4 separate regions of the Homo sapiens genome follow, and all the other regions are linked to region 3. The links come from fine-mapping of genetic effects on gene expression. A gene starts in region 3. Each other region holds a variant in brackets. All regions are shown on one strand. Distances are between the middles of the regions. Region 1 has its middle 23 kb from the start of LIRIL2R. Region 2 has its middle 33 kb from the start of LIRIL2R. Region 3 holds the start of LIRIL2R (lincRNA regulator of IL2RA). Region 4 has its middle 21 kb from the start of LINC03066.

Region 1 (7,659 bases), 23 kb before region 3:
ATGGGAGAGGGGAAGTTGAAGGGTTAGGAAACGCCAGTCATAAAAGGATTTCAGAATTTCAGTCCATAAGGAAGTGGTTTTGTGCATTGTCTGTTCTTGTGTGCAAGGTGAAGTCTGGAGAACAGAAACGTGCAGTAACAAGGGCTCCTTTGTCCATATCACCTCTCTAGATATCAAGTTTCAGACATGTTGCATTTTAATTGAAAGGTTGATATAATTTTTTGAAAAAGAAAACTTGTGGTGTTTGAAGTGACAAAGACTGCTGTGACAAAAAAGCAGGGAAAGGGAATTTTTTTTAAAAAAGCAAACAACAACAACAAAAACCCACAAAAAAGCAAACAGCAAACAAACAAAAAACAGGGGAAGAAGTCGAAACACCCTGGGTTGTGACTACTTCCAGGAAGGGGCTACAAGAGGCAGTTGGAAATTCTATTTGCTTTGCAACTGTGAGTTTTCCAGCCTGCTCCCTTTCTAAAGTATATTACTCTGCTTTTGGTTCATGAAGTTATCCATTTCTGTTTTCTGGAACAGCTATGTATTTTCTTTATCTATCATCTATCTATCTATTTACCATCTATCTTTTCTACCTTTCGCTATCAAGAGCTTGGGTCAAGCAGGATAGAATTCCAGTGTATGTTCACTCTACCATTTAAAACAAGAGCTCTTGTAGGCATTCTCCATCACATCATAAACCTGAGCTTTCTAAAACAGGGTGTGGCAAACTACCATGCATGGGCCAGGTCTGACACAGTCTGCGTTTGTAAGTAAAGTTGTAATGGGACACAGCCACATACATGTGTTATACAATGTCTCTGGCTACTTTCATGGTATAATGGAAGAGCTGAGTCATTGAGAGAGGGACAACATGGCTTGGAAAACTTGAAATATTTAACATTTAGCCCTTTGCAGAAAATATTTGCTGACTCTTGTTTTAGAAGATCTCTCTTTAGAATGCTACCTATTGCCTTCTGGATAGAATCACAACTCTTTACCACAATCAACACACAGCCCTGCTTTTATTATTTCCACTCCTCCTCCTTATTTTCCTTCTGACAATGCCGATGGATTGTCAGCTTCCCAGATGTGCAAGAATCTCTCCTCCCTTCCCGACATTCTCATGCTCTCCCTCTGCCTCTCAAGAACTTCCTGTCCCATCTCTCATGACAAATCTCTTCTTCATTCTTTAAGATGCAGCCCCTTTGCTCCTTCCTTAAGGATGTCTGTCTGGCTTTATTTTGGGTGACATGCTCCTTCTGCATCTCCCAGAGCCAGCCTCTGTGTGTCAGCTACAGCATTTCTTTGCATCTCTGTGTCATATATCATCAAATCTGCCTAAGCTTGAGTGAGTCACTGCATGACAACTTCAGACTCCACCAGCATTGTCTGCACTAACAACGAGGCTTAGAGATTTGTCCAGTATGCTCGGGGTTGTGGGGTGGTAGCAGTAACCAGCTGGTGAGCATCATCTCTTACATCAGAATGAAATCTGTAGATCTCTGCCATTCATAAGTATTTGGAGCTTAAAATTAGCATAAAGATTTTCCTTAAGAACAAATGGCTTGAGTAGGCTTTTGGAACGTAGGATATTTCTGCTCGTTCATTTCAGCGTTCAGTATTCCCACATGAATCTAAACACGGCTCTGCTCTTAGTAACTGTGCGACCCTGGGAAAGTCACTCAATCTCCCTCAGCTAAATTTTGTTGTGTGAGTAATGAGAAGAGAGTTGTGGTTTGTATTTAGTGAGTAATAACAAGCAAAAGGCATTTAGCTTTCTGGAACCTGGTATGTAGTAGATCCTCATGAAATACTAGCTCTGTTGATAAAACTAGACTGAAAGAAGCTTTCAAAGTCAACAACAGTATCATGTAGTGACGGACGTAGATGAGAAGCTGCTGCTGCAGCTTGCAGCTCCTGGAGGCCAGTTTTGTCCATGACTTAGCAGGAATGCACTACCTTTCCATGAGGAGACACTGCCCAAAGAAACCAAGGCCATTCTTTGAGGACAAATATGTTTTAATAGCTTTTATATTATGTAATAGTGTAATACAAATACTAATTTATTAATCATAATGTGAAATTATTTACATTGTTATGTTAAGACTTTTGTACAGAAATTTACACCTAGATATTCTGAAGTTGGTGGTCTGTGAGTGGCATCGAGTGATGACTGACACATTCTGACCTGGGGTAGAACAACACGTGTCCCTGCAGTTTGCTGAATTTCAGGGCATCACCACCTTTTTTCAAGAGTGTGTTTTCCTATCCTCTAGAGTTTTGCCCACTTAAGCAATGGCTTTGCTGTAATAAAGAATTACACTATTTATCAAAATATTACTTTGGAGAATACTGGTTCACATAGTTCACTTTCAAGTTTTCTTAAACTATCAGGCCCATAGCTAATGCCAGTGGCTCCAAGGATGAGAAGGTAAAAAGGTCTTTTTTTTTTTTTTTTTTTTTTTTGGCCAAGACAAAAAAACTCCACATTTCAAACTTTACTGTCTCATGCTAGTCCCTGGAAAATTAGAAGTGAACACACTCCCCTCCCAGCCCAATCACAGCTAATGAATAACCAAGATCTCCTGCAGGTGCCTTTGCCTTGGGTTTGTGAGCCTGGAGTTGCTGGTTGGCACTGGGCAGCAGGCAGCAGAGCTGGTCCCATTTCTCCATGCTTTTCCAACTCTGTAGGGGACACAGGCACATTGAACAAACTAGGTCCTGGCCTGGCACTGGCTGGGAAGCTATTTGATGTCAGGCTCAATGTGGACTTCTGAGTTGAAAAGAGAGTATGGGTCACCCAGCCCCACTTACTCATTTTACCAAGAATGAAAATGGGGATCTATTTCAGACATGAGATTACACA[T/C]TGTAAGACTGTGCAAGCTTGCCACACTTGTATCCGCTCAGCACACACTTTCTGAGTGCCGAGTGTCTCCAGCAGGAGAGGGGCTCTAGTTCCCGGGATCCCACCCTCCACAGAGGACAGCAGCACCTTGAGGGACAGATGTGCAAAGGGCAAGGTGGGGGCCCTTCTGCTGGAGAGGCAGCTGGGGAGGTCCTTAGAGGAAGTGACACCTGAGCTCTTCTCTGAAGGGTGAAGCTGAATTACTTGAAGCTTAGGGTGAAGGGGTGTCCAGGGAAGTGGAGCCTGTGAGCCGAAAGCAAAATGACTTGTCCAGAGAAGTGTAACAAGTTCCATATTGTTTCAGTGCCAAATCTGCACAGGAGTCACCAAACGAAAGAGCAGGATCCTGGAGCCAGGGCATGGGATTTCACCCGCTGGCAATGGGACTGTTCACTGGGAATTCTGGGGGGCAAAACCTGAAAATGTTTCCTCTTAGCTCCAATTCTCTGTCTCTCTGTCTCTCTGTCTCTTTCTGTCCTTCTCTCTTTCCCTTATCTTTAATTTTTTATTATCCTAAGAAAACACAGATGTCTCAGATGTGGGGATTAGCAGCCTGCCTCTTTCTGGATGACTCAGGGGAGCACTTTGGCCTCTGTGAGCTTATTTACAATAATTCACAAATCTTGCCAAAAAGAAAAGTCATGGTAGCAGAGGTTAGAAAACCTCCTAGTATTTCTTCTGATGCTTTGAATTTATGATTAATATGTTTAATCTTCATCTTCTGAAAAGTCACCAGTTGCACAGTGAGGACCATAAAGGTAGTCTGTTTCTGTGGTTTGTGGCTTCAACAGTCAGCGGTTTTGCAGCAATAGCATTGCATGTGGGTTTTAGGCTGATGATGCTCAACAGTGGACAATCCTCTTCACCTGCCTGGGCCCCACTGCCTGCCCTTCCATACAGTGCAGGGTCACAGCTGAGCTCTCTGAGACACCTCGCAGGATCTCGGCTTCTGAACTATCAAGTGTCTTCCAGGTGAAGGCTTGGTCTCATAGCCTTTGTGGCTTCCTCCAGGTAACACTTGGTCTTCTGACCTAACCCTGGTATGTGTGTGACACACATGTGAATGTGCTCCCTGTGGCAGCGCTGAGGAAGGACTCAGTCATCACAGATGCTGAAAGGCAAATGCAGTGTGCTTTTTTCCAACATCTCCAGTCTTGCATTATTTTTACCCATCAGCCCATTTGAAAAAGAAAAAAAAAAAAGTCCCCTGTTAGAATTAAATCCCCTCTGGAGATAATGGGTATTTTTTAAATCTTTCACTTTTTTTAGTCACATTTGCTCCCAGTGCCTGCCAGGATCCACTAGAGGGCAGAGACACCCGTGTATATTTGTGTGGCACTTGCTGAGTGGTAATAAAAACAGATACCCTGCCCTCCCAGAGCCAACCTCCAGTGCCAGGGCCAGTGGCAGCAAGTAAGAAAACCTCGGTTTCTGTATCTGCATCAGCTACACGGTGCTCGCACACAGGAGGCATCAACCAGTTTTCTCAGTTAAAGAGACAGAAACAAAATGTGTCTTCACTACTTTTTGAATTTACCATGTTATCTAATGTTTTAACTTAATTGACTGAATAAACTCCCTATGCATCTGGACACATGCATGGAAAATTCACAAACATTTCAAATGAAAATAGAGTATTATGACAAAAGAGAATTTCTTTTGATATGTGAATTTCACTTTTTTCTATCTTTTAGTGATTTTAATGTAATGAAATTGAGAAGTCTGTGCTTCTAAAAGCCTTAAGAGCAAGGTATTTCTCCATTTTGAAAAAAAAAATTTGGCAAAATATCTTCTACTATAGATAGAAGTTAATTGGCTGAGGGTAATAAACAGAAGATTAAAAAACAAGCTTTATCCCCTGCTATTCTGTCAAGGGCTACAGTGAATTACACACTCTGGCATGGGTTTGCACGCCACGTGCTGGAAGCCAGCAGTCATGCAGGCCATGCTCTCCCACACTTAGGAAAACAGCGCATGAGAAAGATCTCCATCAAGTTCACACAGAATGACCTCCAGCAAGACCTGGAAAATGCTCAGTTCCACAAAATACCTGTGTCCAAATCCTTTCAGTGCACAGCTCTGGCATCAGGTTCCTGTGAGGACAGACCCTGAGATGGATTTCTGGATGGAGGCTGCTGCCGGAGGAGACAATGTCACTGCAGATGGCTCATGCTGCTCCCACGCTGCAGGGGTCAGTGACTTGGGACTCCTGCACGCCGTCCCACTGGGGAACCGTGGAGATTCACCCCAGCTGGGTGGACTCTGCTGTGTCCCCCGTCAAGAAGCTCCACGGCTTACCTTGGTTTTTCCTTTTTAAAACTGTCTGGTGTTTTCCTGTCCAGTGGGGGCTGCATCTCACCTTAGAAGAAAACATTTTCCAACTAGGAGCTGTCTTGGTAGCTGGTCCAGAGGAAGGTCTCCTCTCTCGGGAGTGAGGTCCAGCCAAGTAACTCCAGCCAGAGCTCTCACTGAGTGGGTCTGGATCTGCCCTGTCCTCCTCCCATCCTCATGCTGACTATGGAAATCCATCTGTGCCCTATGCAAAGTCCTGCATCTTGGACTGTAAAATGGCAAAAGCCAAATTTAAAATAGATGATTATATTGACCCTATGAGGAAAAGAAAGTTCTGAGGTAGACAATTGGTAAGCAAGCAATTATGTGTAACTTGCTAGAACACTAGGGTGTTTTTTATTTGTCTGATTATTTTCTGTTTAACAGGCTGGCTAAGAGCCAGAGGGAGAGAAAGCTGGCTGGGAACTGAGAGGCATGAGGTCACCTCAGTCCCAACATTTCCATGTAAACGATGATGCGAGGTGGGCTGGTGGCAAGATCAGAGCAGAACTGAAGGTGATAGAGACACAAAAAACCCTTCAAAAAAAAATCAATGAATGCAGGAGCTGGTTTTTTGAAAAGATCAACAAAATAGACTGATAGCCAGACTAATAAAGAAGAAAAGAGAGAAGAATCAAATAGATGCAATAAAAAAGGATATAGGCGATATCACCACTGATCCCACAGAAATACAAACTATCATCAGAGAATACTATAAACACATGTATGCAAATAAACTAGAAAATCTAGAAGAAACAGATAAATTACTGGACACATACACCCTCCCAAGTCTAAACCAGGAGGAAGTCAAATCCCTGAATAAACCAATAACAAGTTGTGAAATTGAGGCTACAATTAATAGCCTACCAACCAAAAAAAGTCCAGGACCAGATGGATTCACAGCCAAATTCTACCAGAGGTACAAAGAGGAGCTGGTACCACTCCTTCTGAAACTATTCCAAAAAATAGAAAAAGAGGGAATCCTCCCTAACTCATTTTATGAGGCCAGCATCATCCTGATACCAAAACCTGGCAGAGACACAACAAAGAAATAAAATTTCAGGCCAATATCTCTGATGAACATCGATGCAAAAATCCTCAACAAAATACTGGCAAACTGAGTCCAGCAGCACATCAGAAAGCTTATCCACCATGATCAAGTCAGCTTCATCCCTGGGATGCAAGGCTGGTTCAACATATGCAAATCAATAAATGTAATCCATCACATAAACAGAACCAAAGACAAAAACCACATGATTTTCTCAATAGATGCAGAAAAGGCCTTCGACAAAATTCAACAGCCCTTCATGCTGAAACCTCTCAATAAACTAGGTATTGATGGAATGTATCTCAAAATAACAAGAGCTATTTATGACAAACTCATAGCCAATATCATACTGAATGGGCAAAAACTGGAAGCATTCCCTTTGAAAACCAGCACAAGACAAGGATGCCCTCTCTTACCACTCCTATTCAACATAGTATTGGAAGTTCTGGCCAGGGCAATGAGGCAAGAGAAAGAAATAAATTGAATTCGAATATGGAAAGAGGAAGTCAAATTGTCTCTGCTTGCAGAGGACATGATTGTATATTTAGAAAACCTCATTGTCTCAGCTGGGCACGGTGGCTCATGCCTGTAATCCCAGCACTTTGGGAGGCCGAGGCGGGTGGATCACAAGGTCAGGAGTTGGAGACCATCTTGGCTAACACGGTGAAACCCCATCTCTACTAAAAATACAAAAAATTAGCTGGTCGCGGTGGCGGGAGCCTGTGGTGCCAGCTACTCCGGAGACTGAGGCAGGAGAATGGCATGAACCCAGGAGGCAGAGCTTGCAGTGAGCCGAGATCGCGCCACTGCACTCCAGCCTGGGTGACAGAGTGAGACTCCGTCTCAAAAAAAAAAAAAAAAAGAAAAGAAAACCCCATCGTCTCCGTCTAAAATCTCCTTAAGCTAATAAGCAACATCAGCAAAGTCTCAGGATAGAAACTCAAGGTGCAAAAATCACAAGCATTCCTATACACCAATAACAGACAAGCAGAGAGCCAAATCATGAGTGAACTCCCATTCACGGTTGCTACAAAGAGAACAACATACCTAGGAATACAATTTACAAGGGATGTGTAGGACCTCTTCAAGGAGAACTACAAATCACTGCTCAAGGAAATAAAAGAGGACACAAACAAATGGAAAAACATTCCATGCTCATGGATAGGAAGAATTAATATCGTGGAAATGGCCACACTGCCCAAAGTAATTTATAGATTCAGTGCAATCCACATCAAGATAACACTGACTTTCTTCACAGAATTGGAAAAAACTACTTTAAATTTCATATGGAACTAAAAAAGAGCACACATAGCCAAGACAATTCTGGGGAAAAAGGGCAAAACTGGAGGCATCATGCTACCTGACTTCAAACTCTACTACA
Region 2 (7,659 bases), 33 kb before region 3:
TCCCAACACTAAGGCTTTCCTAGGCAGGAGCTGGGCTGAGCCACCCGGGGAGCAGAGCCTGAAGAGAAACTGACTGGGCTTTAGGGGTCGGGGCAGAGGGAACCCCACGGACATGGATCCCACACTGGAGGACCCCACCACGCCCAAATGCAAGATGAGAAGATGTTCCAGCTGCAGTCCAAAGCCCAACACCCCCAAGTGTGCCATGTGTGATGGGGACAGCTTCCCCTTTGCCTGTACAGGTGGAGAAGCCGAGGACAGGCTCAGGGAACCGGAGACCGAGAAGGAGCTGTCCTCTTCACTGCACGTGCCCTGGACCAGTGCCGGCCCTGATCATGCAGCTCTTCCAGGCCCACTGCTTCTTCCTGTCCACTAGGCCACAGCCGCCCTCCAGGCCCACTATGCACACATCTTCCCCTCCAAGGTTTGTTCTGCCCCTGCCCTGACTCCCAGCCCTGTGGGGGTCCTGACCGCACCTCACCTGGCTCAGACTCTTGACGCTGCCCTGGCTGCCCCACCACTGCCTCTGCCCGAGAGTCACGTGAGGCTGAGAGTAGGGGCAGGGGCAGCAGTGGTGCCAGTTGGGGGGCGGTCCAGTGGGAGGAGCCTCAGCCTCGCGGGCTGCTCCGTGGGACTGATGACTGCATGATCTTCTGGGCACCTCACGGATCTTCAACTGCAGGTGAAACGGATGCTGGTGGTGGGTGCAGGGCCGCTGGGAGCTGCTGCATGGTTCCCAGAGGCTGGACTGGGGCAGGTGCCAACTGAAGCTGCTGGGTCAGCATGGGCAGGATGTTCTGCACACAAACCTTGGAGAAGAAGATGTGTGCATAGCGGGTCCACTGCTGCTGCCCCTGCCCTGACTCCCAGCCCTGCCTGACCCCACCTCAACCTGCTCAGGCTCTGGCACAAACCTGGCTGCCCTGCCACTGCCTCTGCCCCAGAGTTGGGGCCTTGACAGCCTGGTTGGAAGGGGACACCCCAGCCCTGCCTCAACACCTGGGGGTCTCCATAACTACCACAGGCAGGTGGGCAACCCCAAAGATCCCAGGACTCACAGTACCCCCTGAGAACATGGACAGTATGTGGGGGTAGCAATGGAGGGCAGGATGGTTATCTTCTCCCAGGTGAAGCCATTTAATCCTTTCAGTTTGGGACGGAGTAAGGCCTTCCTCTTTTTTTTTTTTTTTTTTTTTTTGAGACCGAGTCTTGCTCTGTCGCCCAGGCTGGAGTGCAGTGGTGCGATCTTGGCTCACTGCAACCTCTTCCCGCCGGGTTCACGCCATTCTCCTGCCTCAGCCTTCCGGGTAGCTAGGATTACAGGTAGACGCTACCACGTCCGGCTAATTTTTGTATTTTTAGTACAGACGGGGCTTCATCATCTTGGCCAGGCTGATTTCGATCTCCTGACGTCGTGATCTGCCTGCCTCCCCCTCCCAAAGTGCTGGGATTACAGGCGTGAGCCACCACGCCTGGCCAAGGCCTGCTCCTCTTATCTATACCCCCTAACCCTGCAGCTGTGCCGGGGGAAAGCTGGGCAATTTCCCTCCTCCGAGCCCCTGTACATACCATGAATTGTGGGACCTTCAGAGCTTTTCACTTTTCGGAAAATAGCTCCTGCTGGGGCTACAAGATGGAGTGTGAAGAGGGCCTTGGGCCACAGGGAGGCGCCTGTGGACTAGGGGGAGTTCATGCACCCCTTCTTTCCCCAGAGGGGCTGGACTCAGGTGAGTATGGGGGTGGGGGCTCCTGCACTTCGACACAGGCAGCGGGAGGGTTTTCTCCCCATTCCCTCTGCACTCCCAACTTGAGCTATACTTTTTAAGAAAGTGATTCACCCTGCCTTTGCCCCCTTCCCCAGAACAGAACACGTTGATCATGGGCGATATTTTTCATTGTGCCAAAAAGTTGCCATGACCGTCATTAAACCTGTTTAACACCAAATAATAAGGAAAATAAAATAAAAAATTCGGGCATGGGCAGAAACTCACTCCAAATAAATTACCTACCAAAATATATAATGGTGGAAATATTCCAAAATTCAATATTTTGGGATTTATACACAAAAGATAAACAAATTAGAGGCCAAGAGGCTGCCGGAAGGGAAAAACGGGGCCTGGAATGGCCGACGTGAGGAATGAGCTGGGCCTAAAGAGGCCACTGGCAGGCAGGAGCTGGACCTGCCGAAGTGGCCGAAAGGCAGGAGCTTTGGACTGGGGAGGCCTCAGTGAGGCGAGAGCTAGCTGGGCGTGGAGAGTCCGCTGTGAGGCCAAGGCCGAGGCCAGGCCCGTGCAGGCCTTCGAGAGGCAGGAGGCCGGGCCTGCAAAGGCCGACTGGAGATCAAGTTCTGCGCCTGAAGAGGCTGCCAAAAGTCAAAAGCGGGGCCTGGGAAGGCCGCCGAGAGCCATGAGCTGGGCTGGGCCGAAAGAGGCCACTGGGAGGCAGGAGGAGCTGGGCCCGGAGAGGCTGCCAAAAGGCAGGAGCTTCGCCTGAGGATGCCACAGTGAGACACCATCTGGGTCTGGAGGGTCCACTGTGAGGCAGAGGCTGGCCTGTAGAGTCCGACAGTAGACAGAAGTTGGGCAAAAGGCTGATTTGAGGAAGTTTTGGGCTTCAACAGTCAGCCACGAGGCAGACACTAGGCCTGGAAATAGCCCGACAGTCATGAGTTGGGCCTAAATGGGCCACTATGAGGGAGGAGCTGTGCCTGTTGAGGCTCCTCCAAAAGGTCATCTGTACACACACAGTAAAAATCTGGGAGTAACTGAAGACAGAGTTGGTAAGTAAAATAAGAAACAGTTATAAGAAATTAAACTATGGTATCCATAGGCACCCGGTAAAAGGTCAGTTGATGTTAGCTGCTACTTTTTTGTTGTTTAGAGACAGGGTCTCACTCTGTCACCCAGGCTGGAGTGCAGAGGCCTGATCATGACTCACTGCAGTCTCAGCCTCCCTGGGCTCAAGTGATCCTCCCACCTCAGCCTCCCAAGTAGCTGGGACTACAGGAACATGCCACCACACTAGGCTAATTCATGTATTTTTCTATAGGGATGGTGACTCCCTTTGTTTCCAAGGCCTATCGCAAACTCTTGGCCTCAAGCCATCCTCCTGCCTCAGCCTCCCAAAGTGTTGCGATTACCAGTGTGAGCCACCACACCTGGCCAGCTGCTACTTTTATCAATATTATTATTATTCCACTCAATTAAAAATTATTATTTTCAAGGCTATGCAACAGTATGTATCCTACAGCGTAATTGTAAAAACATATACAGTCGTCATCCCTCAGTATACAGAATTAGTTCCAGCCCCCCATCTCTGCATATACCAAAATCCATGCTTACTCACGTTTCGCTGTCACCCCTCTAGAATCCACGTATACGAAAATTCCAAATGTTAGTTGGGCATAGTGGCAAGCACCTGTAGTCTCAGCCACGTAGGAGATTGAGATGGGAGGATCGCTTCAGCCTGGAAGGTTGAGGCTGCAGTCAGCTGTGATAGCACTACCACACTCCAGCCTTGGACAAAAGAGGGAGACCCTGTCTCAGAAAAAAAACAAAATAAAACAGGTTAGAAATTGTAATCTAACCCTAAGCCTAACCCTAACCCTAACCACTAAGCCTAACCCCTAACCCCTACACTAACCCTAACGGTAACCCCTAACCCTAACCCCTAACTCCAAACCCTAACCCTAACCCCAAAACCTAACCCTAACCCTAACCCCAAACCCAACCCCAACCCGAACCCCGAACCTGAACCCTAACCCTAACCCCTAACCCTAACTCCTAACCCTAACCCCTAACCCTAACCCTAACCAATAACCCTAACCCTAACCCTAACCCTAACCCTAACCCTAAACCCTAACCCTAACCCTAACCCTAACCCCTAATCCTAACCCTAACCCTACCCTAACCCCTAACCCTAACCCTAACCCTGATTATTCAGGGCTGCAAACAGAAAGGATTTTGTTCACCGTCGATGCTGCCCTGAGTTGTCCCAAAGCGAGGCCGTGCCCCCAAGGTGTGTGCTGAGAAAGCTGCTCCGCGTTTTTGGTGTCCCCCGGGTCTGTGTTAAGCAGAACGCAGCTCTGCCCCCGCAAAGGCACCCCGCGCCGGCGCGGGCACGCACAGACTGACGCGACGTGCGCGCGGGAGGCGCGGTGGATGCGCAGAGAGCACGCCGCCGGGCGGGGGTTGGGGTGGCGTGGTGCAGGAGCACAGTCGCACGCCCCTGTGCTGGGGGTGGGGCGCGGTGCAGGCGCGGAGACGGGTGGAACCTCAGTAATTCGAAAAGCCGGGCTCGACCGCCCCCTGCTTGCAGCTGGGCACTACAGGACCCGCTTGGTCACGGTGCTGTGCCAGTGCGCCCCCTGCTGGCGACTAGGGCAGCTGCAGGGCTCTGTTGCTTATAGTGGTGGCCAGCGCCCCCTGCTGGCGCCGGGGCAATGCAGGGCCCT[C/CA]TTGCTCACAGTATAGCGGCTGCACGCCGCCTGGTGGCAGCTAGGGACATTGCAGGGTCCTCTTGCTCACAGTGTGGTGGCAGCACACCCCCCTGCTGGCAGCTGGGGACACTGCCGGGCCCTCTTGCTTGCAGTGCAGTGGGGGCACGCCCTCTTCTGGCCCCTGGGGGCACTACAGGAACCTCTCGCTCACAGTGTAGTGGCAGCACGCCCCCTGTTGGCAACCAGGGCACTGCGGGGTCCTCTTGCTCATGGTGTGGTGCCCGTATGACACCTGCTGGCAGCTAAGGACACTGCAGGGCCCTGTTGCTCACAGTGTAGTCGTCGTACGCCACCTGCTGGCAGCTGGAGACACTGCCTGGCCCTCTTGGTGGCAGTGTCGAGGCAGCACGCCACCTGCAGGCAGATGGGGACTAGGCAGGGCTCTCTTGCTCCCAGTGTGACGGTTGGCGTCCCCTACTGGCTGCCTCCTGCACCACTTAAAGTCAGAGCATCAGTTTTTAAGCCCCATCAGTTCTGTAAATTCAACTGAAACGGAGCTAGTACTAGGGAGAGCTGATGTCCCAGTTCTTGTCTAACTTGGAAGAAAGATTTTCACCAAGAGGCAGTACAAAAATGGGAGACAACTTCATTGAAAAGAAATACAGTGTAAAGAGCTCATTGTAGAAAAATAGGGAGGAGTGGGCTGATCGTGCATGAAAACATCCTAGGAGTCCTGTGCAGGGAATTTTATTTTGGACTTCTTCACATTCCTGCCTCTGTCTCAAGTCTCCACCTGTTCTCTTTGTCTGGTTTTCCTGCTACTGCCTTAGGTCCCCGACTTGCCACACTTAGGCTTGTGGGACCTCCTCACTGTTGGTTGAGGTACATGTGTGGTGATCAATCCGAATCCACTCTGGCACCAGCCTCCTTCCCGCCATCCCAGGCAGGCTGACAGCGGTCACGTTTGTACCCAGTGTGCCTGCCTATCTCTTTTGAATGTCCTTCTTTGCCCTAATCTGCACTTAGGGTGCCAGGTTTCTCTTAAGAATGTCCCCTTTGTCCTTCTTATCAGCATGTAGCTACCAATATTCTGACATTTTTATTGCAGAGTGAATGATGGTTGGGGCATCTTAAAGAGAGTTCTAGGGTTTTTCTTTCTGCATAGGTACCTCTTCGCACTCCTACCCACAACTGACAAGTGCCCATCCACTCCAGCACTAGAGATGCTACTAATATGTGCATTTTTGGTGGTCCCTCCAGGTGAGCCTTCTCAGACTTTCCCTTTTCCAGGAGCTCCCCCTCCTGTTCATGTCTAGCTATCTATCTCCTCTAACAGAGCCCACTATCCTGTGTGTTTCCCAAAAATAGTGATGGAAGGATTAATTGGAAACCATAGGAAATGATATGCATGTAGATGAAAACTTTACAACTTACACAAATAATCACTCAAAATCATCCTTACACTAAAAATGCAAAACTATACCATTTCTAGAAGAATCTATAGAAGAAAAGCTATGTGCCTTTGGGTTTGGTAATGAATTTTAACAAATGACACAAAAGGTTGATATACACAGAAGAAATGACAATGTGGATTTCTTAATATTTAAAGTTTATACTCTGGAGAAGACCTTGTTAAGATAACAAAAAGACAAGCCACATATTGAAGAAAATATTTGCAAAATACAGATCTGAGAATTTGTATTCAAAATATATTTAAAAATTCTTAAAACTAAACAATAAGTTAAACAGCCCAATTAAAAAGGCACACAGATCTCAACAGACATCTTACCAAGGAAGATCTACAGATGGCAGGTAAACATACAAAAACATGCTCAACATGCTAGAGAACTGAAAACCACAATGAGATAGCACAGCTGGTCTGCATCTCTTAGAACTGCTAAACTCTTTAAAAAATGACAAATTGCTGGAGGAAAAACAAGAACTCTTTTCATTGCCGGTGGAACACAGTGTATAAGACCAAAATATGCCACCCCAAAATATAATGGTAGGAAACCAGAATATGCCACCCCAAAATATGTCCCTTTTGCTTAAGAATTATTCCAAGCTGATTATTTTGAAAAAAAAAAATGCTAACAAAGGAAGTTCTGAAAACAGAGTAGAAGTTACCCTTGTGTAAGGGAAATTTACATCTATAAAGGAAATCCCCATTCAAAAGCTACCTCTCTCAACACCAAGAAGAGAAGGATAACTAAATCACTAAAGAGTCTTATCAATGGAGACTGCATGGACTTAAGTCTGTATAACAAACCTTACCCTTGTCTACTGTGCTTTTGCTGGCTAACTCCCCACTACTGCACCTCAAATCTTCTTTCTTTAAGTTCAACATAGTATTTATGCTTGAATTGAAAGCCACCTGTTGGAGATTTACTCATTTTGCCCTGAGTATCTCCCATGTATCCATAAGGTATACATGTTTTTAAACTTTTCTGTTTTTCTCATTTTAATCTGTCAGTTTTTACAGAGGGTCCCATCTCAGAATTCCAAAAACATAGAAAATTATTTTTCCTCCCCTATTACAAGTTGGGCACTTTTTTCCAAAGCTAAACAAGTTTCACCTTACAATCCAAAAATCACATTCCTAAGTATTTTGACAACTACTTTGATGCTATTTCCAAACAAAAGCTACCATGCAATTATTTACAGAAGCCTTATTCATAATGAACAAAGGAAAAAAAAGGAATCAGAAAGTCTTACAATAGATGACTGTGTGGGAATCCACTCAGACATCAAAAGTTGTTATAAAGATTATTTAAATGAAAGCATTTGAGATACTGAAGATAAAGGAAGAAATCTTAGCAGAACTTACTTTATCCAGTTAAAGCAGAGCTCCCAGAAAAATACAGCTGCCATTAACCCCATCCAAGGAGTTTCTTGCAAATTCAGCTGCCATGAAGACAGCGTACTCTTTCCCATTAGCAATGATAAATGAAAATGAAATCCTAAGCTCCCAACTGACTGAACAGACCCACTCTTGGCTGAGGGGACCCAAGAGTAAATTTCAAAACTGAGTTCTCAGCTTTGCTAGCATTTGAGATTGTGATGGTTGAATAAACTAATTAAGAGCCCAAAATGAAGGCTTGGAATAAATAACTGAGGGTGTCTAATATCCCAGTTTTTCATCCTAGAATGGGCAGAGTCCTTGACCCCATTCTAGGGAGACTTCCAAAAGAAAAAAGACCTGCATTTCTTCAACAACCCACATT
Region 3 (7,659 bases):
TATTATATGGCATTTTCCTGGACATTTTGTATACACATGTGTACTTAACAATGGAAGAAAAATATTCCAAATATAGTAGAAAAAAATTTTGTTCAGAGGTTTCCAACACATTTTATTTTGCAGATCACAGATTTAAAGCTTTTGAGGACCAACATCTCTATCAATTCCTATAAAATGTCCCATCAATTTCAGTTTCATAGCAGGCTCTTCTGTACTGCACACCATGCTTATAGTTGGAGGTCTGGTCACACATGCATAAAGGTTGCCCGCCCGTTGGTTCCTGGAGGTGGTCACGTCCAAGAAGCTTCATCTTCCCAGGGGAGGGTTCCTTTGGCAAGAAGTGGATAAGTTTACACATATAGCTTTGGTGCCTGTGAGCAGGAAGTGTCAGAAACTTTCAGGATATGCTGCTGTTTCTCTTATGAAGTCAGGGTCCTGAGGATCCAGTGCCCTTGTACTTAATGAGAACAATTCCTCCTCATTGTTTAGTGGGTTAAAATATAAGGAAGTCGGCCGGGCACAGTGGCTCACACCTGTAATCTCAGCACTTTGGGTAGCCAAGGCAGGCAGATCACAAGGTCGGGAGTTCGAGACCAGCCTGGCCAATATGGTGAAACCCCATCTCTACTAAAAATACAAAAATTAGCCAGGCATGATGGCGTGCACCTGTAGTCCCATCTACTCAGGAGGCTGAGGCAGGAGAATCACTGGAACCTGGGAGGCAGAGGTTGCAGTGAGCCAAGATCGGGCCACTGCACTCCAGCCTGGGCGACAGAGCAAGACTTCGTCTCAAAAAAAAAAAAAAAAAAAAAGGAAGCCTCGTTTTTAAGTAACACAGATAACACCTTTTTAACTCACCTATTTATTCTAGAACTACAATTTTTTGTCCTTTTTTTTTTGTTTTGAAAAAGAGTCTCACTCTGTCACCTATAATGGAGTGCAGTGGTTGCAGCTCGGCCCACCACAACTTTCGCCTCCCAGGCTCAAGTGATTCTCCTGCCTCAGCCTCCCAAGTAGCTGGGATTACAGGCACCCACCACCACGCCCGGCTAATTTTTGTATTTTTAGTAGAGACAAGGTTTCACCATGTTGGCCAGGCTGGTCTCGAACTCCTGGCCTCAAGTGATCCACCCGTCTCAGCCTCCCCAAGTGCTGGGATTGCAGGCGTGAGCCACATCACCCAGCCATATAAGAGCAATTTTAAAAATTAAATTAAACCCACCAGGAGGAACAAAAACTCCAGACGCGCACCACCTTTAAGAGCTGTCACTGCGAGGGTCTGTGGCTTCATTCCTGAAGTCAGCGAGACCACGAAACCACCAGGAGGAACAAACAACTCCAGACACTCCACCTTTAAGAGCTGTAACACTCACTGCGAAGGTCTGCGGCTTCACTCCTGAAGTCAGCAAGACCATAAACCCACTGGAAGGAAGAGACTCTGGACACATCTGAACATCTGAAGGAATAAACTCTGGACACACCATCTTTAAGAACTGTAACACTCACCGCAAGGGTCAATAGCTTCATTCTTGAAGTCAGCGAGACCAAGAACGCACCAAAAGGAACCAATTCCGGACACACTAGGAGTGGGGTGCTGGTGGGGCAGGGCACGGGTAGAAGTGAGGTGTGGGTAGGATCAGGGTATGCGTAATATTGAGGTGCTGTTGGAGTGGGCCGTGGGTAGCATGGGGTGCTGGCAGGGCTGGGCGTGGGTAGGAGCGAGGTTTGGGTAGTGGCTGGTGCTGCAGTGGTGAGCCATGGATAGGAGCGGGGTGCGAGTAGGGGCGGGGCTCAGGTGGAGTAGGGTGACTGCTGGGCCAGGCATGTGTAGGATGGGGTGCTGGCAGGGCAGGGCACTGAAAGGAGCAGAGTGTGGGTAAGATTGGGGTTCTAGTGGGGCAAGCATGGGTAGGATAGGGTGCTGCAGGGCGGATAGCAGCCGGGTGCTGCTGGGACAAGCACAGGTAGGAGAAAGGTCCAGGTAGGAGCTAGGTGCTGTGAGGTCGAAAGCAGGTAGTGTGTCCGGAATTGGTTCTTTTTGGTGGGTTCTTGGTCTCGCAGACTTCAAGAATGAAGCCGCAGACCCTCGCGGTTAGTGTTACTGTTCTTAAAGATGGTGTGTCTGGAGTTTGTTCCGTCAGATGTTCAGATGTGTCCAGAGTCTTTTCCTTCTGGTGGGTTCGTGATCTTGCTGACTTCACAGGAGTAAAGCTGCAGACCTTCGCAGTGAGTGTTAACAGCTCTATCAAGGTGGGGCGTCCAGAGTTGTTTGTTCCTCCTGGTGGGTTCATGGTCTGGCTGACTTCAGAATAGAAGCCGCAGACCTTCGCAGTGAGTGTTACAGTTCTTCAAGGTGGTGCGGACCCAAAAAGTGAGCAGCAGCAAGATTCACTGTGAAGAGTGAAAGAACAAAGCCTCTGCAGCATCGAGGGGTACCCAAGCAGGTTGCCACTGCTGGCTCGCATGGCCAGCTTTTCCCTTATTTGGCCCTGCCCATGTCCTGCTGATTGGTCCATTTTACAGAGAGCTGATTGGTGCGTTTTTACAGAGTGCTGATTGGTGCATTTACAAACCTTTAGCTAGACACAGAGCACTGATTGGTGCATTTTTACAGAGTGCTGATTGGTGCACTTACAAACCTTTAGCTAGACACAGAGTGCTGATTGGTGCGTTTTTACAGTCTGCTGATTGGTGCATTTACAAACATTTGGCTAGAGGGAAAAGTTCTCCAAGTCCCCACCCAACCCAGAAGCCCAGCCGGGCTTCACCTCTCAGTAGGAGCGGGGTGCAGGTAGGATCAGGGTGCTGGAGGGGCATGGGAGGGTAGGACAGAGTGCGGTAGTGAGAGGTGACAGAGTGCTGGCAGCCCTCACTCGCTCTCGGTGCCTCCTCGGCCTCGGCGCCCATTCTGGCTGTGCTTGAGCAGCCCGTCAGCCCAGCGCTGCACCGTGGGAGCCCTTCTCTGGGCTGGCCGAGGCAGGAGCCGGCTCCCTCAGCTTGCGGGGAGGTGTGGAGGGAGAGGCAGGGGCAGGAACTGGGGCTGCGCATGGCACTTGTGATCTAGCTAGAGTTCCGGGTGGGCGTGGGCTTGGCGGGTGGGCGTGGGCTTGGTGGGCCCCACACTCAGAGCTGGCTGGCCGGCCCCACCAGCCCCAGACAGTGAGGGGCTTAGCACCCGGGCCAGCAGCTGTGGAGGGTGCTCTGGCTCCCCGAGCAGTGCCGGCCCACCGGTGCTGCGCTCAATTTCTCACTGGGCCTTAGCTGCCTCCCCACGGGGCAGGGCTCGGGACCTGCAGCCCACCATGCCTGAGCCTCCCCCCAGCCGCCGTGGGTTTCTGAGCAGCCTGAGCCTGCCCAAGGGGTGCCGCCCCCTGCTCCACAGCACACAGTCCTATCGATGCTTAAGGGCTGAGGAGTGCTGGTGCGTGGTGTGGGTGTGCAGTGTGGGACTGGCGGGCAACTCTGCCCACGGCCCCAGCGCAGGATCCACTAGGCAAAGCCAGCTGGGCTCCTGAGTCTGGTGGGGACTTGGAGAACTTTTATGTCTAGCTACAGGATTATAACACCAATCAGCACTCTGTGTCTAGCTAAAGGTTTGTAAACGCACCAATCAGTGCTCTGTGTCTAATCTAGTGGGGACTTGGAGAACTTTTGTGTCTAGCTAAAGGATTGTAAATGCACCAATCAGCACTCTGTGTCTAGCTCAAGATTCCTAAATGCACCAATCAGCACCCTGTCAAAACGGACCAATCAGCTCTCTGTAAAATGGGCCAATCAGCAGGATGTGGGTGGGGTCAGATAAGGGAATAAAAGCGGGCTGCGGAGGCAACCGTGGTAAGCTGTGCTTGCATCATGTTTGGAAACTGTCGTACTGCGCGAAGCTTTGCAGCTTCCCTCCTTAAAGGCAGTGAGATGGCAAACCCACTGGGAGGAATGAGAAACTCCAGGCGCACCACCTTAAGAGCTCGTGACACTCACTACAAAGGTCTGCAGCCACTCCTGAAGCAAGCGAGACCACAAACCCACCAGCAGAAAGAAACTGAACACGTCCAAACATCTGAAGGAACTAGCTCCAGACACACCATCTTTAAAAACTGTCACACTCACTGTGAAGGTCTGCGGCTTTATTCTTTTAGTCAGTGAGACCAATTCCAGACACAAGACCATCTCATCTCAAGAGACCAGGACGTCCGGGCACCCCTAGAATGTAGCTGCTGGCAGAGCCTGAAGTCTATCCAGCTCATGCTCTTCCCTGATATCCTTGACAGATTGTGGGATGGTTCAGCCTCTGCAAGGACATGGCCAATGATGGGGGGCTGGTTTTGGGGGCAGCACTCTAGGCAAGGGAAGAAATAAAGTGTCTGGGAACTGGCGTGGTGAAGGGGCACTTTGTGGAGAAGATGTGTTCACATTTGGATGTGTCGAGGGTGGAATGATATGAGGAAAGTCAAAGGGTGCCCACCCCCAGAGCCTAGGTGTGGGCACAGCACTGCACCACGCCTTAGGGGAGATTGGACTCTGGGCAGAGATCCCAAGAGAAGCAGGAGTTGGAGTCTTGGGGGCCAGTGTGATAGGGAACTAACTTTACTTTAAAGCCAATTTGTCAGTAAGAAAAAACGAGGTGCACCTTGTAGGAGAAAAAGTCACAAGCTTGGTGTGCTTGAAGTCACAAGCCTTGCTGTGCTTGGTGAGAGGGATCCCGAGTGTACTTGAGGCACTCTCCTGTTTAAAAGGGGAACGGTGGTTTTCTTTTCTCAGTGTAGGTTAGTGTAAAAAATCTGCTTTGTAATTGCATAAGGTCTCAGCACAAACAAAATCACAGAAAATGTGAAATGTATTATAACAGTCAACTTGCTTAGAATGTAGTTGAACCTGCATGCAGTATTGAGACACCAGACAACTGTTTTCAGTCTCCACATTTCTTTCATTTCCTTTATGAAAGTTACATTAAGAAAAAAAATAACTCCCTTGAGTATTCTGATATTTTCGGTGAGTGAAACAGTAATCTCAGCAAAGTTCAATCTTGGTATCAGACAGAATTTCAGGTTGTTTCATCTAATTGCCACTTAATACCAAAGACATGATGTTTATTAGCATGTATTTCTAATGAGAAACTATTATAGTCGTCCTCAATTGTCTGAAATATGAAGCGGAAAAAGAAAATTATGAGCCCCAGATACCAGACCAGTTGCTGATCAGATAGAATATCGTGGTTCCAGCATATTATGAAATAAAAATTCAAAGACTGAATACCATGCAAAAGGTCAATATTCGGCAGCATCTGAGAAGTCATACATCTAGATAGACCTAAACTATAAGTGCAGAAGTGCTACAGTAAACTATATGGGCTTTCTACTAAGTACTGGCTAATTTTAAAACATACTGAAATTTATGTACATTAGTCTTTGTTATAAGAATTGAGAATCCGCATTGTATTATAAAGTTGATCTACAACAGTCACTTTATTATAAAATATTTTCGGCCTGGCGCGTTGGCTCACACCTGTAATCCCAGCACTTTGTGAGGCCGAGGCAGGCAGATCACCTGAGGTTGGGAGTTCAAGACCAGCCTGACCAACATGGAGAAAACCCCATCTCTACTAAAAATACAAAATTAGCCGGGCGTGGAGGCAGGTGCCTGTAATCCCAGCTACTCCGGAGGCTGAGGCAAGAGAATCGCTTGAACCTGGGAGGCGGAGGTTGCAGTGAGCCAAGATCTCACCATTGCACTCCAGCCTGGGCAACAAGAGTGAAACTCCATCTCAAAAAAAAAAAAAAAAAAAAATTCACCAGAAGGAAAGTGCTTACCTATTTGAACAACTCTGTACGGGTCTATACAGTATTCCAAGGCTCTTCAATAAGCACATGGTGATGACCCAGGTCAGTCGTGGCAAGGTTGGGGAATTAGAACAAACCTCTGTGGCAAACACAGATTATAGCTTGAAGTGAGCATCACGGATTTCTACAACAAACACTCTGACAAATATTTCCTGTGATAAACATCCACGTTCTCGAGGTGGGACAATTAACCCAAACTTTCCAAATTACATAAAAACTTTTGCTCTATCTAATTAAGCTGATAAATTCATTATTTTAAATGACAACATACAAAAGAAGTATAGATTTTTACTTAAAACGTATTGGATATGTGGGTATTCTCTTGTCTTTCTAAGCAAATGCTAATATCAGTTCAGTGCTTAACAATGTCAGCAGCAACTGGGCCCTCTAAGTCTCCTGCTACTGAAGTTTGAGGGATCAAGCCTCACCGTAATTTTGACAAAGACTAAATTCAAGATGTCTGAGGCTTACAATTTTCTTATTCTACTTAATGAGGTAGAGAAGTTCATTTGGAATTGAGCACTCCATTAGACTGTTTCAGCTAAATTTCAGGTGGCATTTTCTAACAATAAGAGCTGTTGATGCTTTGGAAGGCAACAGGTTTGCTTCACTGGAAGTGATGATGGCCTTCCAGAAAGGGTGAGGCAAGGTTTTCTAAGATCTCATCCAACTAAATGATTCAGAAAGCGCCAGCCTGGGGATTCCAGGTGCTTGTGACTCGGGGATCTTTCTGCCATCCCACCTCACCTGTTAGTCACCTTTTGAAATTGGGTATGATTGAAATGGAGTTTAGGGAATGCTGTAATAATATATCTCTTGCTTGCCTAATTCACAGAAACGTGCACAGGCAAACTGTGATGCTAAGTGGGGGCTTTGATCCTTTGATGCCGGGCCCTCCTCCCACCCGGAGCCATACCTATTTCTCCCTTGCCCGTTCTCCTGCCTCTGCGTTCAGATGTGCTTCAGGCCTGAGACAGGAGGAACCTATCAATGAAGGAGGAAATGTTCCCCAGCTCCTCAAACACGAGGCCTCCTTCTGCAACTCAACTTTCTGCTCCCAGGACAGGATAATCTGAAGACCCCACCGCTTCACCTCATCTGAAGACTCAGTTAAAGAGGAGCGGGCAGGCAGCTGGGGGATTCATTCTCTGGGAGTGGGAGCAGAAGGGAGCCCCTTGTCTTGTTTTTGTTCCTTCCCAGTTGACCCACAGCTGGAGTGCGGGCTGGGCAAGTAGGTGCTGGGCAACTTCTGGGGAGACTCAGGCCTCCTTATTGGCCATCACAAAGCCCCAGAGAAAAAGATGCTTCCAAAAACTGCAAGATAAGAGGAACAGGTAAAGGTCATGGGAGGATTAAGTAGAGCACAGCAGGCTGCTTCACGAACCCTCTGTGGCCTTCCCCAGGTGGGCCAGCATGGCAGCTGCTAACATTGAGTCTAGGCCATCAGGCAAGGTGAATTAGGGACAGTACCAGTGGGGAAAGTACCTCGGTGTAGCCCATGCACTGTCTGCCACCCACCCATGAAGTTCAACCTCTTCTAGTGCTCTTTTCTGTTTTCATGGTCCTGGAGTGACTTGACCTCATTTAGTCATTCTATGATTATCCCATTTACAGGCAAGGAGCATTTTTATTGTTGTTAATGCTCTTAACTCTAGCAAGCTATGAATTTAGGACGTGTCTGTGCCCTTTGGCAAACTTACTGTCTCCTTAGGAATTTTGTGCCCGATTTCTTTTGCTCTTCCAGACTGCTGCCCATGCTCCTCTGCCCTGCCGAGCACTCTGGGAGATGGACCTGGTTGGACACTAGAGCTCCACCCTGCAG
Region 4 (7,659 bases), 46 kb after region 3:
GTAAAAAAAAAACTTCAGAAAGTGGTTTAGTTGAAAGCACCTTAGGCTTTCTTATTAAGAATTAAGCTGCCCATGCTATTCATACTTGTAGTTTAATTCCTCACTTATTGTTGTAATTGCAATTGGATTTTGCAACAACAGCAACAAAAGCCTCCCTGGCAAGTTCCTGGTGATTCTGGGGAAGAGGGCTTGAGCCTGAGCTGCTCTAACCTCTCCTTCAGTCCTCAGCTCCCTGCGGTCTCTCTATAGAGATATGAGACACCCCATTCCCAGTACAAGCCACTTTTCCAGCTTCACACACACGCCCTCTTGGATATGCTCCCTGTGACGGGCAACCGTTCTACTGGAAGTAATTCTGAAAAAAGCCTCTGAACCCATGAGGCCCACGTGGGGCTTACCTGGCATTCAACTGTGTTCTCCTACATGTCACCATGTCCTGTCTCCACGACTCATGTTTGATCCTCGCGGGGGCATCAGAGCTTCCTCAGCACCTAGCAAGGCCATCTGTATATGCAGTGGTGATCCCCATTTCAATGTAAATTACGACCACTCTCCACCACTGCTACCCAGGATGTTTCCCAGACTCCTTAGGTGTGTGAGGTGCAGAATCAACCAACTGGAAAGAAACACTCTTAGCCACTTTAATACTCCTCCTCCCTCTTTCTAAATTTCCTAAACCAGTTGAAAATGGGCACCTTTTCTGAGAAGCACAAGCTGTCTCTTGCCCCTTTTACAAATGTCAGTCATGTGTTGCTTAAGGACAAGGATACCTTCTGAGAAATGGGTCCTCAGGCAATTTGCTGTTGTGTGAGCATCGCAGAGTGAACTTCCACACACCCGCGTGCTATGAGCTGCTTTACACCTGGCGATATGAGACAGCCTGTCGTGCCAGGCTGAGACCTGCATGTCACTGCGCTGAGTGCTGTCGGCAATTATGACACAGTGGCGTGTGTGTATCTAAACAGAGAAAAGGTGCCGTGAAAGAACAATACGAAAGATGAACAACAGTACCTGTGCAAGGCACTTACCATGAGTGGAGCTTGCAGGACTGGCAGCTGCTCTTGTGAGTCAGTGGGTGAGTCGGGAGTGAATGTGAAGACCTAGGACATCACTATGACTACTGCAGACTTTATAAACACTGCACACGTAGGCCACACTCTCTCTCTCTACATATAAAGTATATATATGTGTGTGTGTATATATATATAATTGTGCTAAGACGTTGAGGTGGCTACAATGTCATCACATGATAGGAATTTTTCAGCTCCCTTATACTCTTACAGGACAACCATAGTATACGCTGTCTGTGGTTGGAAATGTTGTTGTGTGGCACATGACCGTATGGAAGAACAGAGAAGACCATTCAGAGCTTCATCGGAGGCAGTGGTGACCGCAGGACCCCTGCATCTGCTTCAGCCCAACCAGACATCCCTGACCCTGCCCAGCAGACCCTGACCTCCGCCACAGATAACCTGGGAGCCTGTGGGCACGGTCAGCAGGGGGCGTGGAGTCTGAGGCACATGACTCTCATGCGCCAGCCCAGTGGTGCCCGCACCTCATTCTTAGAATTTCCTGGAAGTGGCTTTGCTCTGAATGCCTGCGCTGGCATCACAGAAACAAAAGTTTCTTCCCTGGAAGGGATGGGAGCAGCAGGGGCTGGTGGAGGAGCTGCCACTGTTTTGGTCACAGAACCACGCGTTCTCCAGGTGAAAGGTAAAGCTTCAACTCTGCACAGTAATCCAGGGAAGCATCTTCTTCAACGGGACGCGAGCCGCTTTCTCCTGTCGCTGTGGGTTTCATTTGTGGCGACGTCTCTGCAACATCCATTTTTCCCTGAGTTTCTTTCTGGCCGTAGCATGCACCTTCGGGGGCTACGAAGTTCTGATGCTCAGGTACTACAGGAGATCCATTGAACTGAATCTCTGGAAGTGGGGCCCAGGCCTCTCCTTTTCAGAAGCTCAGTGTGTGCTTCTGATGTACAGCCAGAGTTTAGAGCCATCAGGCTCACCCAGTCACGGTGATACCAACTCTCCAACCAGTGACTGTTCTTGGAACATGCAGATCACTCTATTCTAGACGTGAGGCATGAGGAGAAGCCTGCAGGAAGCTTCTGGAAAGGAGTTCATCACTCCTAAGGGGAAGATAGTACCTCTCTGTCTTGTCCAGATGTGACACCTGGCAGAGCTGCCTGGAAGACACCAGTGCCCCAGGCGCCAGGTGTGTAGAGTCACAACCCTGCGTGCCGTGTCTGGAGTCTGCCCTGGCTCTGGGCTTCCTGTGGTAGGTGATGACACAATGCCTCACTCCCTAACCCTGCTTGAGGCTTGGGTGTGAGTTATTTGTAGAGAAAAACATTCTTACTCATTCCTGGGCCTGTTCCTTCTGTACCTATAGGGAAAGAGCGGAGGAACCAGGTTCCCGGTCCAGGCCCCACTTCCTGTTACGCCCTTTAGCTGATTTCCTCTGTTCCTCGCCAGATTCTAGAAGGTTTGCGAACTCTGCTCATGCAAAGTCTGGCTGCGGGGGCAGTGGAGTTGCTGGAAATCAGACTCGAATGCCACACTGCTTCAGGAAACCGAGGTGCTTTCCTCCGTGTACAGCCAGTGTGCTCCTTAGGTCTCTGCATCAGCCTGTGAGGGGGATGAGATCACCGTCCTGTTTCAGAAGAGGAAGGCGAGGCCCGGAGAGGGCGCAGGGTGCCCTGTGGCTGTGGCCACCCGGGAAGGGGCTGTGACGCCCTCGTGGTGCAGGGATGAGGGACGCTGCCTGCCTTTGCTGTCGAGCAGAGGTCTCACCCCTGCTTTGTGAGTTTCTGAGTTTCTGAGTGACCTCAGCAAAGCAGCTCAGCCTTTGAGCTCAGCTTTCTCATAGGAAAACGGGGTTGAAAAATCTTCCCCACATTTATTATGCAAAAGCAACCGACGGAGGAGCGCCTGCTGATGCTCAGCAAAATGCCGTCTGTGTGCTGCTCATCATTCCACGCCTTCACCCTGAACGCCCAGCTTCTTATCAGAGTCTAGGGGCAGCAGAGAGTGATTGAATACGCACGTGTGTCCACACTGCAGCCACGGCAAGGCCGAGAGAGGGGCTCCCCACCA[T/C]GCTGGCGGCCTGGGGCCTGGACAGAGCCAACTGGGGAAAGTGCCTCGCAACAGACCAACCTGGTGAGGGAGGCGGGGGGAGCACATGGCGCAACCCACCCTCCTACCATCCACATTGCAAAGCCCCAGCGATTCCTGGGCGTCACTTTTCCACCCCCACCCACCCTGTGTCTCTGTGGCTTCGGGCGCGAGCTTGTGGGGCAGAGCCAACAGACAGAGCTGGGGACACCTGGGGCCGCTTCACAGCGAGATGCCAGACTCAGGCCTTTACCAAGCTGCGCGTCACTGGTAGAAAAGGACATTAGGAACACTAGGTAAAAAGCAAAACAAAAATAAATCTCACTTGGCATCTTTCCCATTATAGTTCAGTCGATGGTAGCTATGATTCTATTTGCCTGTGTTACTATTTACTCTGAAAGAGTGGATTTAGGCCAGAACATTTGCAGTCTGGCTGTGTAAGGCACCACAACAGTATCAATGAGCCGCCGCACTCAGGATGATTTAGCTCTCCCCATTTTCTCAGATCTCATCACCCCCAATCCTCAGCTCCCTTGTGACCAAAGGTTAGCATTCTTCACAGAGTAGTTAGTCTGTGGACTGGGGGTGAAGCGAAGCCCCTCCATTTCCTGGGTCTGGAGACCCAGGGCCTCCGAAGCTCTGGCCTGGGCCATGCAGACTTTTCATGGAAGGTGAGGGCAGGGACTTCTGACACTGAGGCCCTGAGTTGGGGCCAAAAGTTTTAGGTGAAGGGCACCATCCCCAGCAAGAATGCTCTCACTTCAGATGCCAGCTGCAAACTCCAGGGTCCCCAGGCCACCTGCACTTCTGACCAAGTCAGGGGTTCCCCTGACCCCTTCAGAGTCAATAATTCACCAGAATGACTCTCAGAACTCCGGAAAGTGCTACATGTATGATGACAGTGTTATTACAAAGGACACAGCTCAGGACCAGCCAAAGGAAGAGACAGCAGGACACAGTCCAGGAGGGCCTGGAAGGCAGAGCTTCCATGTGCTCAAGACCGGTCACCCTCCCACTACATCCATGCGTTCACCACCTGGAAGCTCCACCAAGCTTTGGGGCCAGAGCTTCCACTTGGGTTTCATGACATACTCGTGATTGATTGAATCACTGGCCTGATGGTTGAACTTCATCTCCAGCCACCTCCCTTCCCTAGAGGTCAGGCTCAGAGCCCTGATCCTCTGGTGACACGTGGGTCTTTCCTGTAAGACCGTCACCCGTCCTGAAACCACGCAGGCCCCCACCGTGAGTGACCTGTTAGCATAAATTATCAGGGCCCACCATGAATAGCAGAGACACTCCCATCACTTGGGAAATTGTAAGGCTTTAGAGAGCCTCTCCCAGAAGATGGAGACAAAGGCCAGCATGAGTCCTCATCACACAGGAGGAGTGTGGGTGTCGTGAGTGTGAGCGGTCTTGCTCACACAGGCACATGCCTCTGTTCTCTAGAGACAAAAACCACAGCTCCTTAGCATTTCATGCGAAGCCTGCCATCCACTGGCCTCATCCCTCGTTGCCTAACGTGGGGCTTTTTCTGCAAGGCCGGTGCTCGCTGTCCTCCTCAGGGAAATTCTCACCAGCTCCCTGGAGCATGGCTGTCATTCGATCTTTGGTGTAAACAGCATTCGACAGGCTTCTGTAATCATAATTATCATGACATAATTGTAACTTTTCTTCTCAATACAGTCCTTTTCTCCATTCGATTAAAGTGATATTTTGCTTACAAGTAACAAAAACCTGGCTTAAAGCACAAGGACATTTCTAGTTTACTTAAGTCCAGAGATAGCTGGTCCCAAGGTATTTCGGCCACTCAGGCCACTGAGAACCAGGTTATTTCTGTTCTGTCATCCCTAGAGAGTTGGGCTGTCTACCGAGCAGTCACTGTTTAACATGGACATAGGCGGCAGCTGCCTGGGAAAGCACCATGTGTTTTCACAACGGGGTTCCAGGTTCGCAAGAGAAGGACTTTCTGCTCTTGCACCTCTCTCCCTTATGGGGGGGAAATATTTCTGGGCAGCCCCAGCAGACATCCTACTGGATGACAGGGTCTCTCCTGGCATTCTCCCCTGGCAAGGGGAGTGTGTGGGTGCCTCTGTTTGGGCCATTCCTCAGAGCGACTGTATTGTTCCCTGAACATAATCAGGCTGCCCCGCAGGATGGTGGTGGGAATGGCTGGTGAGCCTTTGACACTGCGAGGTTGTAGAATGTGTTCTAAAACAACAGAGAGGCATCAGAGCACGAGGAGGGAGGGAGGGAAGGAAGAAACAGGCAATGGTGGGAATGAGGAGCAAAGGAAACAAGAAAGAAAGATTTAAATCAGGCAGGAACACCAGGTCCTAGCGTGTAGGTACTTTTTAAGATGGAATGTACTTTACAACTAAACCCTATGTCAGATTCATGTTCATTTATCATGACTTCATTATATGCTGTAGTAGCTTAGTAGTTTTCAAAACTTTTTGTTTTTTTGAGACAGGGTCTTGCTCTGGAGTGCAGTGGCACAATCTTGGCTCACTGCAACCTCCGCCTCCTGGGTTCAAGCAATTCTCCTGTCTCAGCCTCCTGAGTAGCTGGGACTACAGGCGCCCACCACCACGCCTGGCTAATTTTTGCATTTTGAGTAGAGATGGGGTTTCACTACATTGGTCAGGCTGGTCTCCAACTCCTGACCTCAGGTGATCCACTCTCCTCGGCCTCCCAAAGTGCTGGGATTACAAGCGTGAGCCACCGCGACTGGCAGTTTTCAATCTTTTTGAAGCAAGCAAATTTTATATTAAAAAAAAAAAAACATTGGTTTTTTGGTGTGTGTGTGTGTGTGTTTTTTTTTTATCATTTGATAGGTCAATATAAAACAAAGGCAATCCATTTTCCACCCAGAAGTGACTTATACCACATGCTTTGTCTAAGCCTTCATTTGCTCTTGGGAAAAATGTTCCTCATCTTTCTAGAATGAAGAGAAGTACTTTCTTTGGAGATTGACAGGGGCCAGAACAAAGTTAAATAATGTACTCCTGGAAATGCAATTTTGTCAAAGGAGTAACTTCTCTCAGTCCTCAACGCGTGCAGTCATTACACAAGTGCTCGGCAGAGTCAGGGAGTCTCAGCATCGTTCTAGAAAGCCCAGATTGACCGCCTTCCTTCCACTATGCCTGGGCTGGCGGGAGGGCAGGACTAAGTGGCGGGATTGCACCCCTCCCCGCAATGTCTAAAAGTGGAGCCGGGCTCAGCCAGGCAGTGGGTGGGGGTGTGTGGGTCTCAGCCAGTTTCAATGGTTTTGACAATGAAACTCACCTGGGTGTGTGTTATTTGGCTTTGTTCTTCAGATTTAGACCCTCTCCTAAGTCAAATTGAAACTCCCCGAACTGGTATCCTATAAGAGCTGACCCTTATAGTAATGTGTGCTTCGAATCATGTGAACTGAAACCTGTGGACTTCCCACAGCCCAGCAGGACCCACCTTCCCAAGCAGCAAACCCTGGAGCCTCGAGCTGACACGTCAGTCCTTGTGCTTCGTGCACATTTAGAAGGAACTTCAGACAAACTTCATTCACTTCAAACTCTGTCCCCTTGGAGCCTCGAGCTGACATGTCAGTCCTTGTGCTTCGTGTAGATTTAGAAGGAACTTCAGACAAACTTCATTCACTTCAAACTCTGTCCCCTTGGAGCCTCAAGCTGACACGTCAGTCTTTGTGCTTCGTGCAGATTTAGAAGGAAATCCAGACAAACTTCATTCACTTCAAACCCTGTCCCCTTAACCTATTTCCAGTATCCAGAGGTAAAGCAAATCCTTCAATGTGATGCCCAAATAAAACTATAAATATACATATGTAATATATACAAATACAGAAAAATATATACATACATATGTGCACACATGTCTATATGTTTGCATGTATGTATATGATATTGAATCACGCTTTTTCATTTAATAACATGACTTGCAGAACCTTCCACCTGCATATTTAGTTCATATCACTTTATTCTATTTAATAGCTGCAAAACCTCGATCCAGTCTCTTCTATTTGTTGATACGAGGGCTCAGCCCCCCACCCACCCCTCATTTTTTTGGCCTTGTTAATGATGCAATTAATGTTGATAGATAGATAGATAGATAGATAGACAGACAGACAGACAGACAGACAGATAGATAGATAGAGATATGTAGAAAGATATCTATGTATCTCTATGTATCTATTTTTATATGTACTTAAAAACAAATATCTGTAGAGTGAGTTGCCTGAAAAAGGATAAGTGTATTTTCACAGGAATTACCTATTGCCCGCCAAAATTGTTGTCCAACTCAGCCTCTCACCAGTGGTGCAGGAGACTGGTAAACCTCACCAATGCTGGGTTTTATTAAGCTTCATTTATTGCCAATGCTATGTAAATAGCCAGTTATACAGCACTAGTATTTTGCTTTCCATTTCCTTAATCAGGAGTGTAACTGAGAAATCTGTCTCATGTTTGATGGTCAAGAACTGGCTTTTGAGAGTCTCTATTTTTCAATAGAATATTTCCCCTTTTCTTTACTGATATGACAAAGCTCT

The links.
Region 1: its variant is fine-mapped to the expression of LIRIL2R in whole blood (TOPMed, PIP above 0.99).
Region 2: its variant is fine-mapped to the expression of LIRIL2R in prefrontal cortex (GTEx, PIP above 0.99). The same link has a PIP of 0.9 or more in hypothalamus and putamen.
Region 4: its variant is fine-mapped to the expression of LIRIL2R in prefrontal cortex (GTEx, PIP above 0.99).

What each region holds. Positions count from the first base shown.
Region 1 is chr6:153,143-160,801 of GRCh38, forward strand. No RefSeq gene overlaps it. Among named protein-coding and RNA genes, the nearest start is that of LIRIL2R, 23 kb to the right of the region's middle. RefSeq lists enhancers at 3,001-3,090, 3,131-3,220. The variant T/C (reference allele first, on the strand shown) is at 2,861.
Region 2 is chr6:144,055-151,713 of GRCh38, forward strand. It overlaps the pseudogene SEPTIN14P6 and the pseudogene CICP18. Among named protein-coding and RNA genes, the nearest start is that of LIRIL2R, 33 kb to the right of the region's middle. The variant C/CA (reference allele first, on the strand shown) is at 4,454.
Region 3 is chr6:176,559-184,217 of GRCh38, forward strand. It overlaps LIRIL2R (lincRNA regulator of IL2RA), which reads left to right and starts at 3,837. Exons shown (of 2, transcript XR_926349.3): 1 at 3,837-7,659. LINC03066 (long intergenic non-protein coding RNA 3066) reads right to left here. Exons shown (of 8, transcript NR_126020.1): 7 at 5,808-5,916; 8 at 4,908-5,137.
Region 4 is chr6:222,948-230,606 of GRCh38, forward strand. No RefSeq gene overlaps it. Among named protein-coding and RNA genes, the nearest start is that of LINC03066, 21 kb to the left of the region's middle. RefSeq lists enhancers at 2,488-2,647, 2,708-2,757, 4,053-4,112, 4,673-4,802, 4,813-4,932 and 1 more. The variant T/C (reference allele first, on the strand shown) is at 3,099.